3 linked regions of the Homo sapiens genome follow. The protein of the gene in region 1 purifies or fractionates together with the protein of each later gene. This does not show direct contact. Each region holds a gene or a part of one and is shown on either strand. Other genes may lie near its edges.

Region 1 (3,576 bases):
CCCCAGTCCATCCTGAAGCTCCTGCACCCCCTTCCCGCCTTCCCCTCACTTCCCAAGAATACTCCAAACAAACTCTGAACCACGGAGACTTGGAGCAGTGGGAGACCCCTCTCCCGTTTCTCGATACCTTCCTGGAGGAACGCGGGGACATCGGACCAACCCATACATCAAGCCAGAGAGCGGGGCTTAGGGAGACTGGCCTTGGAGATGCCCCACTCCCTGTCTAAGCTCCGACAAGACTGTGACTTCCTCTGTGGCTGCTCTGCCTCCTCCCACTCACACCCAAGTGGGCCTGGAGTAGAGACGGACAGGCTGGAGACGAGGCCGGAGTTTGAGAGGCCTCAGGGTGGGTGTGAGGCCATGGAGTCTGTATCCCTGGGGAGGCGCTGGCCTCCTGGGCCTTGCCGTCCAGTGGGGAGTGGAGGGCAGAGGCCCTTTGGTCTGCTGGCTGTGGAGGGTGGGTTGCACGGACAGCCGGATATCGGGGACACTGCCTTGGGAGAGGGCGGCCCGGACGGGTATTTGGTACTTTTAGTTTCCTGATTTAGCACTTTAAATGGCATTAACTTATTGAATGGGGATGGGGTGGGCAAGAGTGAGGGGCCTAGAAAACCAGGTTTTGTGGCTTGCAGTTGGGGGAAGGGTCTGGTTTGAGGGAAATGGGAGGGTCGAGAGGGGCTTGACGGGGAGCACTGAAGACACCTGGGACCCGCAGGTGGGGTGACTTGAACTTCAGTCATCCTCTTGGCAATTTGAGGGTTTTCCCAGGAAAGGATGAGACGTAGTTTTTCAATGGGGCTCTGGTGACCCTGGTGAGATGTCTGAAGGTCCCTGAGGCCTGACCATCCAGCCAGCGCCCCTGGCCTGTGGACGCCCTGCCTGCCCTGCAGAGGCGGTTGGCAGTGCCGCCTGGCTTTTGGCCGGGTCCTGGGGAGGCAGAGAGAGGCCAATTTTGGTTCTCACTCCTGGCCCCCCAGAGGGCACAGTGAGGAGCCGGTAGGGAGAGGATAGGAGAAGAGGAGGAGGAGGAGCGGGGTCCCCGGCCGCAGGATTCCCACTTGGAGCACAAAGTGAAGTAAGCACAGGGGAGGGGGACTAGAATCAGTCCCCCATAGCAAGCACAGAAAGGAGGAGCTGCGCAGAAGGCAGAGCCCCCCAGACCCTGGGGCCTGGCTGGGGAAGGTCCGCACCTGGGGAGAGCTGGGAGCTGTTGAAGGTTTGGGGGGAGGGGAAACGGGTTGTGTTTCTTCATTTCTTTTTTTGTTTTTGCCTTTGTTGGTTCATCCTTGTTTTCTAGCTTTGGATCATTTTTGTACCAAGGCGAGCAAGCCTTTTTGAAAAATAACAAAAGAGGAAAAAAAAAATCCCTCCTGGAAAAAAAAAAAAACCCTGGAAAATAGAAAAAAAAAAAAGGACCTCATAAATGATGCAATTACTTTTAATTGCAGGCAACTCTTTACATTTAAGTGAAGTGTCTTAACATTTTATATTGTTTTAAAAATATATTTACATATTATATATATAATATACGTAATATAAATATATATAAATATTTAAAAAAGAAAAAAAAAAGAAAACCACGGCACTCTCCCTGGCCACTGTTTTGGCGGGGGAGGGGGGCTGGGGGGCGGGCACGTCGGCCTGGCTTCTGTGGTCCCAGTGAAATGGTCTGGTTTGATTTGGCTGTACAGAGACCCCCTGACTTGGGAGGGGAGGGGGGAGTGGTGCCCCCTCCTCCCTCCACTCCATTACTCTCTGCTTGCTACTTCGCTTGCCCCCAGCTCCCACCCTCAGCCCTGTGACTGGAATGTGTGCCCCACCGTCATTGTCCTGAGTTGAATGTCCCTTTGTGGGGGAGGTGGGGGGGGCAGTGTCCATCCACGAAGGGGCAGAAGGAGGGAGCCACGTGCCCCGCCCCACCCGCTCGGGTGAAGCCCAGTGGGATTTGCATCTTTCTTTCTCTTTGGTTCCTGCACATTTATGGGCTGGGAGGCATCCGTGTGGAATTGCGTGCAGCCTGTGTGTGTGCTGGCACAAGCCCATGCACTGTGTGTGCAGACGCATGGGGCCTGCACCCACAGGCATGGCCGAGCACATGTGTGGGGGAAGGCGTGGGCACATAGGTGCATGTAACCTGTTTGGGCATTGGCACGTGCCTACCTGCATGTTAGCGTGAGAGGAGCTTTGTGTGTGAGAACATGTGTAATGTGTGTGCAGACATGCCGAGAGCCAGAGACTTGTGTGTGGGCCACGTACATGTGGATAGAGACGCATACATGGAGGTGCATGTAATCTGTGTCTCCGAGTGTGTGTGTGCAGGTATGTGTGCTGGTGCAGACCCAAGTGTGTGGGTGTGCCTCTGTGTGCGTGTGTTCCATCATCCCTGCACCACTGGCTCCAGATCCCTTCCTGAGCCCCCGTCCCCGCTGGCCCTCTCACAGCCTGCAGCACATCAGTGCCCCCAGCTGCATGCGCCTCGCTGCTCTGTCCATCAGTGTGTGCTTGACCAAGAGAAAACTAAGACGTCTCGGGGGACCCCTGTACCTGGTCCTCTCAGCCCCCGCCCACTGTGCTGTGTTACTCGCATGGGGGATTTCCTGCCCCTTCCACAATATGCTGTTTCCCCAGGAGCCTCAGGCCTGAGGCTCTGAGTGGGGTCCCCAGGGGGCCCCCCGGGGTGAGCCCCGGCTCCACACCCTGCCCCATCCACCCTGTAGGGCCCATGTTGGTGTAGCAGTGATGGCTTCTGTGGATATTCTGTGACCTCTGTCGGTGTAACTTGACAATTTCTAAATGGAAAAGGGTTGCTGTGTTTTCTCTGTCTCTCTTTTTTAATGTCCTTTTTTCTTCTCCCCCGCTCCCTGCTCTCTTTCCTTTTCAGTTTTTCTAGCCAAGTGTTTGGGGCTTTAATAAAACTTGTTTCTTTTTCCTCTCCTGGATCTCCTTCCTATAGGCTGATGTCTCATTATTTCTCTGCTTCACCCTGGAGGATCTGGAAGGTGCTGGGATGGGTGGGGTGGCAGGTGGGGAATCCCTGGCAGCCACTGGCCTTCAGCTGGCAGAGCATGAGGGGGAGGACAGAACAGGGCCCCTGGGATTAGCCAGGTGGGGTGGTGTACACCAGTAATCCCAGCTACTCGGGTGGCTGAGGCATGAGAATCGCTTGAACCCAGGAGGTGGAGGTTGCAGTGAGCCAAGATCGCACCACTGCGCTCCAGCCTGGATGACAGAGCGAGAACCTGTCTCAAAAAACAAAAACAAAACAAAAAAAACCAGTTCTCAGCTTGGCATTCCAGGAGGTGTCCTGCCTAACCCTCACAACCATCGGTGAGGTAGCTACCGGCACTACCTACTCAGGCAAGTGACAAAACTCAGAGATGTTGGGCATCTTACCCAGAGTCATACAACTGGTAGGTTGTAGACAAACCAGTAAGTTTGAATCCAGCTCTGCCTGACACCAAAGCCCACGGTTACCCTGAAACCAAGCAGGGCTGATGACCTCCAGTAGTCCCCTGAATTGGGTCTCAGCCTCCTGCCCTTTGAGTGAGATGACCCTTGGTGGGGGTCCACCCATCT
Region 2 (3,654 bases), on another chromosome or scaffold:
TATAATGGCAGTCCTTCTAATCTGTGAAGCTTTAAAATGATAGTGGAGTCATCATATCCTCCAAATTGCTGTTTCCAAGAAAGGTGCCATTATTATGCTTATTTGTTAAAACTGTAGAACACCAAGATTATATTTTCCAGTAGTCTTTGAAGGTACTAGGGGGCTTGGGAAGATGAGCTCTTGGAGAAGAGCCCACCTATCCTTTCATGCTAGCAATGCAGTGTTGCCAGGGTTGCAGCTCCCAGTGTGAGAATTTGACAAGGAGTTAAAAGGTAAAATGAGTTCAGGGCTTGGTCTGAGACTATATTTACCTTCTTTCTTTTCTTTTTTTTTTTCCCCTCTCATTAAATAGCTCGTACATGTTTTTAGCACAAAAAGCAATGTGGGCAAAGTGATAAAGTTTGAAAGATCTAAAAGGCAATCCTAATTCAAAAATGAGAAGAGAAATTAGCTTGGGGTAATTTCCTCATCTTTTACAGAAAAAAATTTGGAGAAATACAGTAATAATTTTAGTGTCACTGGGTTTAATAAATTCTTCATTTTCAGAATTAGCTGAATAAGGGGTCATGTATATTTGTCAGGTAGTTTTCTTTCATGTCAGTTTACCATTGAGTGATGTAATAAATTGCATGTGTTTAAGAACTTTTTAAGATTCTTTATTGGATGCCTTAGGTTTTCTGTATTTATATTCTCACATTCTTACATCGAGTTTATATACACTTATTTTGACTAGATTACTTTTCTGTGGACAGCAAGAGGGGGTTATTCTGCAGAATTGATTTTAGATGTTTCTGCTTCTGTTGCAATATTGTGAAAACTTCCTGTTCATACGAATGCTTACTTAAAGGCAAAATAGAGCTGTTTAAAAGGAAGGTGACTGTACATGTTGATTTTCCTTTATCTGTTTATACCAATTTCCTGCTATTATTATGTATGGTAACCCCTTCTCTCAATTTTGAGTTTCAACCCGGATGACAAATTATATTGTCTTCCTCTTTTTAAATCTTGCTTTCTCTTCCCCAAATTCTTCATTTATAACTTCAGAAAATCAAGCAATTAACAGTGTTAAAATATATCTCAACAATAAGTAATGCAAGCAAGTGGTAGATATAAAATCTTGATCATTGTTTGGTAAATGGAGAACACTTTTTCTGAGAATGAGGTATTATCAGCCAGGCGTGGTGGCTCACTCCCGTAATCCCAACACTTTGGGAGGCCAAAGCGGGTGGATCACTTGAGCTCAGGAGTTTGAGACCAGCCTGGCCAACATGGTAAAACCCCGTCTCTACTAAAAATACAAAAAATTAACCTGGTATGGTGGAGTGCACCTGTAATCCCAGGTACCCAGGAGGCTGAAGCAGAAGAATCGCTTGAAACCAGGAGGCAGAGGCTGCAATGAGCTGAGATCCTGCCACTGCAGTCCAGCCTGGGCAACAGAGTGAGACTCTGTCTGAAAAAAAAAAGGAAATAAGGTATTCTCTTTTATGGAATCTCAACAGAATGATGCTTTTTATGGCAAAGCTGAATTTAAAATTTCAAAACATTTTTCAAATAATAGTAGTTATGAATTGCGACTTCATACAGGACTGTCTTTATGAGAATTCTCCTTTGAGCCTTGCAAAGAGCAGCCTGCAGTTTACCAAAGACATCTTTAATGTGTGAGAATTTATTTAAATAGATTTTGGGATGTAATATTTTGATATTCCTCTGAGTTTAGATGGCAAAATGAGGTAATGTTACAGAAAGTAATTGCATGTTATTTGTAATATTTTGATAATTCCTCTGATGTTTAGATAGTAAAATAAGGTAATGTTATAGAAAGTAATTTCATGCAATATGTAAGTAATCAATGCACTTAATTATAATATTAGCTATTTTAAAGCATAATGAATGAAAGATATTTTGTGTAATATAGAAAATAATACCATGCTAATGATTTATACATTATTTAGTATTTGTTTGTATTACCCATCATTATGCCAGGTAATTTAATTATCATCTGGAAGATGATAGTATATTTACATAGAGAAGGTATGTAAATTGAAAACCAATTAAGATATCTGTACTGTCATATAAAAGTCTTACACTACTTAGCTTCTTTTAATGGACTCTCATGCATAATATACACACTCACAAGTGGAAACTAATGTAGTAATCTTGATGGAGTTTTCTTGCTGTATTTGCTGGACTTTACATCGTCCATTTGATTAGTTCACAATTTACATACCTACATATGGCTTTCTGTACTTAAAGCAGTATTGCTTAATATTTGAAGACTATTTTTAATCTCAAGAATATATTTTAAAGTTGTAAGTTATTGGTGCACAAGCATTGTGTGCCATATTATTGTTTTTGTTGTTTAAACACAGCTTTTAACCAATGTAACAAGAAACTCTTTGAGGCCGGGTGCGGTGGCTCACGCCTGCAATCCCAGCACTTTGGGAGGCTGAGAAGGGCGTATCACCTGAGGTCAGGAGTTTGAGACCAGACTGGCCAATATGGCGAAACCCCATCTCTACTAAAAATAAAAAAATTAGCCGGCGTGGTGATGCATGCCTGTAATCCCAGCTACTTGGGAGGCTGAGGCAGGAGAATTTCTTGAACCCGGGAGGCGGAGGTTGCAGTAAGCTGAGATTGTGCCTCTGCACTCCAGCCTGGGTGATAGAGCAAGACTCCCTCTCAAAAAAAAAAAAAAAAAAAAAAAAGAAGGAAAGAAAGAAACTCTTTGATAGGATGTCTAGCTGCTAGCTGTTTTGTTTTCAATTTATGTGGTTTTTATTCTGGAAAAAATAGGCAGATTGTATATGAAGTACCTAGGGTATGTAAAAATCAATGTATTGGGTTTCTTTAACTATATGGTAGTATATATCCACATTTAGAGGTTCTATCCAGGTCAGAAAGATTACTTAGCGTATTGGTAGAAAGAGATGAAAACAAAAGTAAAGTAACCAAATGGCTTTTCCTTTTATATTTCACACAGCTTAGCAGATTTATCTTCCTTGGCTATCTCTGTATTGCAATATATTGGAGCTTAAGCCTTCTTTCCTAACCCCTTTGTTTCTGGGAAAAAATGAAGACATTTTACATCCTAGTATCTGGAATAAAGGGATATTGAAATGAACAGTCTCATTTATTTTAGATATTGAAATTTTAGTAAGATCCAAAATCCTAAAGAGATTCTAATTTTATATTATTCATGATTGTGACAGTTTTCATAAAAGTGTAATTTTGAAAAATAAAATACAGTAAAGTCTTCTTATATTGAGAATGGATATTTCAATTTACAGCTGTCTGCATACCCTAGGTCAAATCTAGCCACCTAATATATAGCAACCTGAAGTAAAAACTTGATGCTAGTCTGAAAAAGATATTATGGTCTAAGTATCATGCCAGACACAAGCATTAGAAAGGGATTTTATGGTATTTAGAGCTCCAAAAGCCTAAGCTTTAACAGTCACTATTGGGTACAACTATGATGGATAATCAGTCCAGGGGCTATCTAGTCCCTGACTTCCATAAATGCAGCATAGTTAAAGGCTATAGGAGGTCCACATGCAATAGAAGAGAAATAAACATGGTACCAGGCCACAAGAAGCAGATACTTTTGCTAGTAAGGTTGTGCAAATTAAAAAAAATATGACATACGCACTTTGG
Region 3 (3,654 bases), on another chromosome or scaffold:
CCAAATTTAACAAGTGCTTATTTTAGTTTAGATCACGAGTGTTTTGCAGTATTTTTGACTCCGTTCTTAATGCCATAATTTTTTTCCCAATCTTTTTAAACTTACGAAGCAGTTTCATATAAATGATCTCATATTTGTTTGGTCTGAATGACATTAGTGTTTATACTAGAAAGAAATTGTGGCCAACTAGAAATAGTGGCCATGCTACATTTATAATAATAATGATTCCAGTAATGAAATTTGAATTTTACCTTAAATATGTGTACTATTGTTTACTATTTTCTTTCTATCTGATATGAAGATTTTAAATCTTGGATTATTTTTTAAAACCACTTTAGTGACTTAAATATTTAAAGCATTTCTTGTAACTTTCTCTAGAAGCAAGTTCAAAAGGTCTTCAGTTACACTGTTATGATAAGAGATACATTTAAATATCAATGGAAAGAAACAGAAAAGCTTTCAAACTAAGTGTTTGGAAATGTGTAAATGCCATTCAAGATGTCATTAATGGCTGAGGTGGGTGGATCACTTGAGGTCAGGAGCTCGAGACCAGCCTGGACAACATGGTGAAACCCTGTCTCTACTAAAAATACAAAAATTAGCCAGGGGTGGTGGTGGGCGCCTTTGGTCCCACCTACTGAGGAGGCTGAGTCAGGAGAATCACTTGAACCTAGGAGGTGGAGATTGCAGTGAGCTGAGATCACGCCACTGCACTCCAGCCTGGGCGACAGAGTGAGACTCCGTCTCAAAAAAAAAAAAAAAAAAAAAAAGATGTCATTAATATGGAAAGCTATAAATAGTGTTGAAGATTTCAAGAAAACAAAAACAAAAAGTTTGTGACCTAGACTAATGATCAGTAATAGCAGTTTTTCCAACTACATAACATGCCAGTCCAAGAACTAACCAACAGTTACTTAAGAATATTCTCAGAAAAATTTCTAGAGAACCTGTTCAAAAACATATACAAGATTCTGTGATGCATGTTTTTTTCATGTGAAATATCACGTAGAAAGATATCTCTGTTTTCTACAGTGCCCTTTTACTGGGCAGCAGCATCATATTCTTAAGGAGAAGTGGCCAAGCTAATCAGTATTCCCTGAACCTTGGTTGTAGAGTGCACAAGGGAAGAAGATGCCAAGCAAAACCAGCTTAAAGGAGGATGAAGACAAATCCGGGCCTATTTTTATTGTTGTTCCAAATGGAAAAGAGCAAAGGATGAAAGATGAAAAAGGATTGAAGGTAAGGAAGGATTAAGAATCGTCAGGAGATTTTTGCTTGTATTGTTATTCAAGAATAGTTTTGCTGTCTGAATTCATGTTATTGTTTAATATCTAGGAATTAAGTGTTTCTTTTGCTTATAAATTATATTATTTAGTTTATGGGAGCATTAATTCCTACAAAAGAAACTATAGAATAGAGTTATTGCCTATTTTTCCCTGTAAATAGAAATAAATGATTTAGTAGCTTTTTTGGTATCTTCATTGATTTTTTTTTTTAATTAATTGGATGTATAAGCTTCTTCATTAATCCTTCTTTTTAAGACCTTACAAGGCAGACTTTGTGACTGTATAAATGGCTAGTTCAGTCATTTATGTTACTTTGATTTCATTAGATACTTAAATTTGTTTTCAAAATACATAATCTTTTTTAAAAATTATATGCAGTACAGAAAGTGCAAAGTATAGTAAGAAAAGCATGTCTCTGTTCCAGTATCCCTCCACAGGGAGGATATTAGTCCTCATTTTTTCAATGTATTACTCCAGAAATATTTTATACCTCTACTATCATATGTATATTTTTATATAGCCCTCCTTTTATACAGATGGCATATACAGACATGCCGTACTGTTTGTTCTGTATCTCACTATTTTCTTTTAATGATGTTTGAAATATCTGAAAGATCATTCGTATCTGTGTATATATGTGTGTATCACTGTTTGTATTGGTGCATTGTATGTATGTACCTTTCTTTATCCTTCGCCCACTATGTTGGACATTTAGGTTGTTTCTGGTCTTTCACTATTACAAACACTGCTGCTGTGAATATCTTTGAATGTAGGTCTTTGTACACATATGTGAGTGTATCTATATTAAACTCCTAGAATGATGATATGCATAATTTTGATAGATATTTCAAATTTTCTCTCTATCAAAGATGTGGCAGCAGTGTCCACCATGTTATATAGTTATATGTAGGATTAATTTTTTTTTTTTCTTTAGTAAGAATTGCAAGGCCAGGCACAGTGGCTCATGCCTGTCATCCCAACAATTTGGGAGGCTAAGGCAGGCAAATTGCCTGAGCCCAGGAATTCAAAACCAGCCTGGACAACATATTGAGACTTCATCTCTACGAAAAAAATTTTTTAATTAGCTGGGCATAGTGGTGCATGTCTGTAGTCCCAGCTACTTGGGGGGCTAAGGCAGAAGAATCACTTGAGCCTGGGAGGTTAATGCTACAGTGATCTATGATCATGCCACTGCACTCTGCCATGCCCAGGCAACAGGTGAGACTCTGTCTCAAAAACAAACAATTCCAAAAATTTTTATTCCTAGAAGATTTTCAGAGTTGTTAAGCTTCAAGAAGTATGACACCTTGAAATTTGCATTCATATTTAATTACAAATGAATATTGTTGAATTTTTAAATATTTTATTGTTCCTGCAGCTGCATTATATAAGGCTCTCTACCTCATTTCAGTTGAACACCCTGTAGCCCCTTTTCACCGTTTGTTTTTTCCAGGTGCTAAAGTGGAATTTTACTACCCCACGGGATGAATACATTGAGCAACTAAAGACTCAAATGTCTAGCTGTGTGGCTAAATGGTTACAAGATGAGATGTTTCACTCAGACTTTCAGCATCATAACAAAGCCCTTGCTGTTATGGTTGATGTAAGTCTGCAATAGATAAATATACATGTATTTCAGACATGTAAAAATACCGAGCCCTATGAAATAATCTGAAGTTTGCATGACTTGGAAGTAGAATATACTATGTTCTCTATTTTTAGAGCTGTCTTGTTATTTGGTAGAATAAATGAATGTGTGTGTATATTTTTTAGGTCTTAATTGAAGGCTTAAAAATCTGTCATTTTCTTTTTGGGCTCCAATAAAATTTAAAAGACACTTGCCTAGTAGAATTAAGATTTTGATTATTCTTATTTGTGGGAGTTTTGTTTTGTTTTATTTTAAGCACTTGGAGAGTGAAAAAGAAGGAGTTATTGGTTGCCTGGATCTTATCTTAAAGTGGCTTACCCTGAGGTTTTTTGACACCAATACAAGCGTCCTGATGAAAGCACTAGAATATTTAAAATTGCTCTTCACCTTGCTAAGTGAAGAAGAATATCATCTTACTGAGAATGAAGCATCTTCCTTCATCCCCTATCTTGTCGTCAAGGTAATGTGGTGTTCTCTCTCTGGGAGACTGCTTAAGTTCCCAGCTGACCTCAGTTTCTGTACTTTTATTTCCTCTCCCTTTTTTACTGATTATATCACGGTACCTTCCCTACTTATCCCTATTTCCCTATTCTTTCAAAACATAGTAATGCATGGGAGAATCATTGCTACTTAGGAAATGCCTCACTTAATCATTATTTTCCTTATCGACTAGGTTGGAGAACCAAAGGATGTCATTCGTAAAGATGTTCGTGCCATCCT

The links.
Region 2: the proteins of SRCIN1 (region 1) and RIMS1 purify together in Homo sapiens (co-immunoprecipitation; one large-scale study listed by IntAct). This does not show direct contact.
Region 3: the proteins of SRCIN1 (region 1) and CKAP5 fractionate together in Homo sapiens (co-fractionation; one large-scale study listed by BioGRID). This does not show direct contact.

The regions. Positions count from the first base shown.
Region 1 is NC_000017.11:38,529,387-38,532,962, reverse strand, and holds the end of SRCIN1 (SRC kinase signaling inhibitor 1), read left to right. Parts: 3' UTR 1-2,932; downstream 2,933-3,576. UniProt on the Homo sapiens protein: Acts as a negative regulator of SRC by activating CSK which inhibits SRC activity and downstream signaling, leading to impaired cell spreading and migration. Regulates dendritic spine morphology. Involved in calcium-dependent exocytosis.
Region 2 is NC_000006.12:71,892,993-71,896,646, forward strand, and holds part of RIMS1 (regulating synaptic membrane exocytosis protein 1), read left to right. Parts: intron 1-3,654. UniProt on the Homo sapiens protein: Rab effector involved in exocytosis. May act as scaffold protein that regulates neurotransmitter release at the active zone.
Region 3 is NC_000011.10:46,762,716-46,766,369, reverse strand, and holds part of CKAP5 (cytoskeleton-associated protein 5), read left to right. Parts: intron 1-1,113; coding exon 1,114-1,239; intron 1,240-2,739; coding exon 2,740-2,889; intron 2,890-3,190; coding exon 3,191-3,394; intron 3,395-3,607; coding exon 3,608-3,654. UniProt on the Homo sapiens protein: Binds to the plus end of microtubules and regulates microtubule dynamics and microtubule organization. Acts as a processive microtubule polymerase. Promotes cytoplasmic microtubule nucleation and elongation. Plays a major role in organizing spindle poles.